Linked DNA regions of Homo sapiens: region 1 is linked to region 2. Evidence: fine-mapped expression QTL. A gene starts in region 2. The other region holds a variant in brackets. All regions are shown on one strand. Distances are between the middles of the regions. Region 1 overlaps IQCJ-SCHIP1 (IQCJ-SCHIP1 readthrough). Region 2 holds the start of IQCJ-SCHIP1 (IQCJ-SCHIP1 readthrough).

The links.
Region 1: its variant is fine-mapped to the expression of IQCJ-SCHIP1 in lung (TOPMed, PIP above 0.99).

Annotation. Positions count from the first base shown.
Region 1 is chr3:159,868,073-159,870,990 of GRCh38, forward strand. The region is part of intron 5 of IQCJ-SCHIP1 (IQCJ-SCHIP1 readthrough); the gene reads left to right. The region is part of intron 3 of SCHIP1 (schwannomin interacting protein 1); the gene reads left to right. Among named protein-coding and RNA genes, the nearest start is that of IQCJ-SCHIP1-AS1, 100 kb to the left of the region's middle. The variant T/A (reference allele first, on the strand shown) is at 1,397.
Region 2 is chr3:159,067,763-159,070,703 of GRCh38, forward strand. IQCJ-SCHIP1 (IQCJ-SCHIP1 readthrough) reads left to right here and starts at 1,557. Exons shown (of 10, transcript NM_001414413.1): 1 at 1,557-1,679. The coding sequence starts at 1,671. IQCJ (IQ motif containing J) reads left to right here and starts at 1,557. Exons shown (of 4, transcript NM_001042706.3): 1 at 1,557-1,679. The coding sequence starts at 1,671.

The sequences.
Region 1 (2,918 bases), 800 kb after region 2:
GGGTTATATATAACATACGTATATATTAGCTAATATTAATCTATATGTAACATACCTATATATAACCCATATATATGTATATGTACATAGGTATATATGGATGTATACATATATATATGTGTCTTTGTGTGTGTGTGTGTATATGTATACTCCAGATATATTTATATTATCCTTGTGCCACTCTCCAGAAGAAATAACTTTTTACTCCTTAACTGTTTCTTCTGGTATTTACCTACATATCTCTAAATAAAATGCTTATCTTCTTAGTTTTTATTTTAACCATCAGACTACCTGCTATAAAAAGATAGTGATTTAGCTCTTTTTTTACAGCCCTCCCAAAGACTGTCATCTCTTCTATTCTTCCTTTAGAGTAATTTCACAATTTAGAGTCAAATAGCTATTTAATGTTTACATTATTAAGATTATGCATTATTCATCGCTTCTCAGCCTTTTAGCTAAGATCAAGTGTAAATTATGCATTATTCCCACTGAACCACGTAGTAAACTATGGTTACTTGAGAAATTTTATTTTTTGTCCTGAAATTAGAATTGCCTCCTTTCTCCCCATGTTCTGCATTTGTATTCCAGTGTGTGAATATACCACAATTTATTTGGCCTCTCTCCTGATAATGGGCATTGGATTATTTCAAAGGTTTTGCTCTTGTAAACAATGCTACGTATAAACATTCTTGTATATGTCTTCTGCTATACATATGCAAGAGTTTCTCTTTGGGGCATACCTAGGAGTAGAATTACTAGGAAAATACATGATTGTTTACACTTAGAATATAATGTCAAACTGTTTTCCAACATGGTTGCAACAGATTATACTCCTACCAGCAATGTTTCAGAGATCCTGTGGATCCATAACGTTACTAACATTTGATATTGCCAATTCTTTTAAGTTTTTGTGAAGATTGAATAGGTATAAAATGATTTTTATTGTGTATATTAGCCGTATTTGTTTTCTCTTCTGTGAAATATCTGTTTGGGTCCTATGCCAAATTGCTGTTGGATTCTTTATGCTTTTCTCATCAACTTATCGAAGTTCTTCAGTCATGATACTAATCCTTAATACACTGTATGTATTGCATATATCATTTCCCAGGTTGTAACTTATTTTTCACTTTTTTAATATGTGTTTTATGACCAGAAGTTCTGAATTTTATAGGTTGATTTTATACTGAATTTTATCAAACTTTTCTAGTCAATGGCTTTCTGTATCTTGTGTAAGAAATTTTCTTCTCCCCCAAGATCCAATAGACATTCATTAGATTTCCTACCAAGAGTCGAAAGTGTTGAGTTTTTAAAAGTCTGCAATCAGTCAAAAGTTGATTTCTTGATATGGTATGGAGAAGTCAAATTTGATCGTTTTCCTTATATATGACCATTTTTT[T/A]ATCATATTTATTGGACAATCCCTCTTTTACTCACTGATCTTATAGACTACTCCCATATATACTGTATGTTAATGGAAATATATTCTATTTTATTATTGTTTCTATCTCAGCAGCAAAACTATAGTGTTAATTACAATAGCTTCAAAATAAGTCCTGATATCTGGACAGGAAAGTCCTTTTTGTTATTCTTTTTCTTCAGAAGTATGCTGCCTGTTACGGCTTTTTTTATTCCTCCACATAAACTTTAAATAATATAATCAAGTTCAACAAAATACTCTCTTGGAATTTTGACTGTAATTGCATTGATTCTATAGACCAATTTAGGAAGCATTACATTTTCTCATTGTCTTTCTATCCATGAATATGGTCTGTCTCCCCCTTATTTAGATCTTATTAGGTATTTCTTAATAAGGTTTAGACATATTACACATCTCTTGTTATATTTATTTCTTTCTTAATAAGGTTTAGACATATTACACATCTCTTGTTATATTTATTTCTAGATACTTGCTATTCTGATAAATTCTCTTCAGTAATGCTTTCTCATTTGCTGCTGGTGAACAGAAATGCAATTAACTTTGTATACTAGTATTATATTCAGCCACTTTGTTATTACTCCTATTACTTCTCTACTCTCCTATTATTTCTAATAAAGTTGTCTGTAGATTCCCTGGGATTTTTAAAGAATGATATCATCTACAAATAATGGCAGCTTTATTTATTCATTTTCAATTCTCATGCTTTTGGTTTCTTTGTCTTATTGGATTGGCTAGGTACCCTAATACAGTGAGGATTAGAAATAGTAGTAGTTGGAATCCTTAGCTAATTTCTCATATTAAATGAAATGTTTCTACTGTTTTCCCATTTCAGATGATGTTAATTTTATGTTTCCTTTAATGATTCTCTTTATGAGATGATGTTCCCTCCCAGGTATAACTTACAAAGAATTTTTATCATGAATGGGTATTTAACTGTATCACATGCTTTTTCTTCATCTGTTGAGTTGAAGAAAAAGTACAATTTCACTCTGTTAATCTATTATATGAATTAATGAATTACATTTATAGATTTTCAAAATATTAAACCATGCTAGCATACCCAGTCTAAACCTAAAGTGGTTAGGGAGTATTATATTTTTTCAGATACTGTTGGAGTATTATATTTTTTCAGATACTAATATTATAAATAAAATCTGAGTAAATAATTATAAATAAAATTCATATTTTATTTGTAACATTTTGTTTAGGATTGTTAGGTTTATATTCATGATTGACATGAATCTATTGTATTCTTTTCTTCTGACATTTTTGCTTGGTTTTAGTATCAGGGTTATGCTGGCTTAAAAATGGATTGGGAAGTATTCTCTTTCATATTGTCTAAGAAAAGTTTACATAATATTTTTATGATCTGTTTCTATAAAGCTTGGTAGGACTCATTTCTCTCTGGGCCTGGTGTTTACTTTGTGTATTTGCTTTAACGACAGCTTCCATTTCTTAAGTGGTTATAATATTATACATACTT
Region 2 (2,941 bases):
AATGGTAAGCCCCTTGAGGGAGTTCTCATCTTAAGGGTCATTGTGTTCTACACAGCATCTGATGTGTAATTCAGTGGATATTTGTTGAACAAATGGATGAAACAAATGGCAGTGGAGAGCTAAGAACAGAATCTAGGCAAACAGGCCTGAGCAGTGGAATGTGAGGGGGACTGGCGGTGCCTCGGTCAATACGTATCAATCGAGCGTGCTTAAAGGTGAGTCTGGCCTTCTGCAGCAGTCTGACCATTGACTCTTTATCAATAAACATAAATACTGTTCTGCCCTTGACCTCAAGAGTTAAAATAATAAATAGCTTAATTGGTCATCATTAATTCCACTTCAAATTTACTATAGGCATGTGTGGCCTTGAACAGAATGACTCCCATGCTCAGCCCAGGCATTTTATCCCCGAACCTCCCAAAGGAGTGTCCTTGGTAAAACAAATAAAATCAGCCTCCCACCTCCTCCCACCCATCAATAGCACGTTTGCTATTGAGTCCAGGCAAATGGCCATTTGCAAGGTTGGATGAGTAGTTAAGCCACACAGGCACAATGTAATATGACAACATTCTTCATGGTAATATTGTCCTCCTCCTCATTACATTTGAATATAGATTGCCACTGTGCAATGCCTTCGACCTCGCTCTCTATTTGTGAGGTTTAGGAGTTCTTCAGACAAGGTGATGTCCACGTGCACTCCTCAGAAATTATTAGCCTATTTGTAAACCTAAACAAAATAACAGCTATTGTCTCTAATAACTTAATTTGCCAAATCTCTTTTCTTCCTATGCTTAATTATGTATAAATTTATAGACTTAAGCCACCTGCCTGCTCAATGCTTGTATATAATCGTACCTCTTAGCTACCACTTAATGTTTCAGGGCTCTTCCTTTATATTCTCTTTGCTTCAAACTGTACATTTAAATATCAGTACTCAGCTCAGCTTCTGAGTATTAAACATTTTTTTTTCTCCACTTCCTTGAAAAGCTGTGAACAAGCCTTTTAGCATTTTATCTGGACCAAACAGTAGTGGTTTTACATGAGAAACGAGAACTCTGCAAGTAAATCTATGTGTTTATATGTCTAAAGTGCATTATAAAAAGAAGCAATAAATCTAGTTTTCTACATAAAAGGAATTAGATTTTCCAGTTTACCTCTGCACTGGGATTAATAAAATGCGCAACAAATAGCTGATGGAATGATCCATTTGAAGTTTGTAAAGGTATCTAGGGAAGCTGGCTGGAGTAGCCTTTTCATTTTTTCAAAAGCAGGATGCCTCTTAATTTTTTGATTCAGTCTTGTTTCTCAATGACTGTTTTAAAATGAGCTGAGAGGCTGTTACCTGCCTGTTTCTGCATGGCTGAGCAAATTCACCCGTAAATCCAAGTTTCTCTTCATTTCCATCACTATACGTCTCCAAATTACAGAGAATTCATTCCTGAGCTGGAGAGGTGCCAGAAGTTTCTCATCTAGCTGTCTGTGGGCTGCCTTTTTCTTTCCCCTCTTTGAGGCTTTCTGATGCCTAGAGTGAGCTCAACTCAAAGGTTTCCAGCCTCACACTCGCCTCACATTCCCCCACAGTCACATTGCGCTCTGTGATTCTGAGGAATACAGTGTGCCAGCATCCGATCCAGTCTCCTTTCACCTGCAGGTGTTCCAGAAACTTCAAAATGCGTCTGGTAATGTATTTGCTTTTCTAAACGTGCCACTTTGATGTGCATTATATGCAGCTGCTTATTATTTTTTAAAAATCTGTCTTCTGAATTAACATGTATGCAAAAAATGTCAAAAAGAGCTTATAGAACAGTGTGGGCTTAATTATTGGTCTAGGTGCGTGTGCATGTGTCCTTGTTAATGTAGGCATGTGTGCATAAATATGTATTATTTATGTATACATGTGTCTGTGCGGACAGATTTCACTAAAGGAATCTCATTGAAAGCAACACTTCCTATGAACATCCAGATTTTCTAGTCAGATCTGTAAATATCTTACACAACAACAGCAAGTAGAGGAAAAATACATTTTTCACACCCATGCAAATGGTATGTTTTAAACACTTATTTAAAAAGCCCTCCTTTCTTGTGTGTGTGTGTGTGTGTGTGTGTGTGTGTGTGTGTGTGTGTGCGTGTGTATGGGGAGGAGGTGTTGATTTTTGAAAATTGGGAGAGAAGAGTTATATTGCTGCTGCACGAGAATTTCTACCCCATGTTACCTGCCTTCTTAAAACTCAGTAAGCACTGAGGGGAAGAGATGTGGTTCTGCTTTGGAGAACCTCAGGGGGACGTTGATCCGCAGTGTTCAGCAGGAATTTTAGGTATTCTAAATACTAGTGCTTGAATAATAAGTAGATGGGGTAGATTTGCTATAGCCAAATCCTTCTATGTTTTCTGGCTTGTAGGAATCACATTCACACTGTACATTTAGGATCTGCATGTGTTTATTGAACTCTAGTAAAGCAGCGTGAGAGTGCAGGCTCATAAATCACATTATTTATTTGCTAGTGTTGGGTGCTAGATTCTAAGATTAAGAGATTACTTAGCAATTAATAATATATTCAGCATCCCTTGTCTCATTGGGTGAGATTTACATCCTTGGGACTTGCTCTTCTAGTTATAAAGATGAATTATTTAAGGTTCATACTTAATTGCTATTTCAAATTCTTAAGCTAGAAAGATACTTGCAACACTATATTTAAAAGACTTATTTTGAAAAATGTGTATGTATATTTCTAACTGGTGGTGAGCTAATTATGACTACAATGTGCTATATGCTTAAAAATAACTGATCTTGAGTATTGCTTACTTTTGTAATAGAAACTTGTTTTCTGGTCTTCAGATTATAATAATTCTTTCACTTTGCATTATGCTCTTTTTGAGATCAATATTAACTAATTTTTGTAAAGAAGAGAAAATGAGGTAGCAAGTCAAATAGCATTCACAA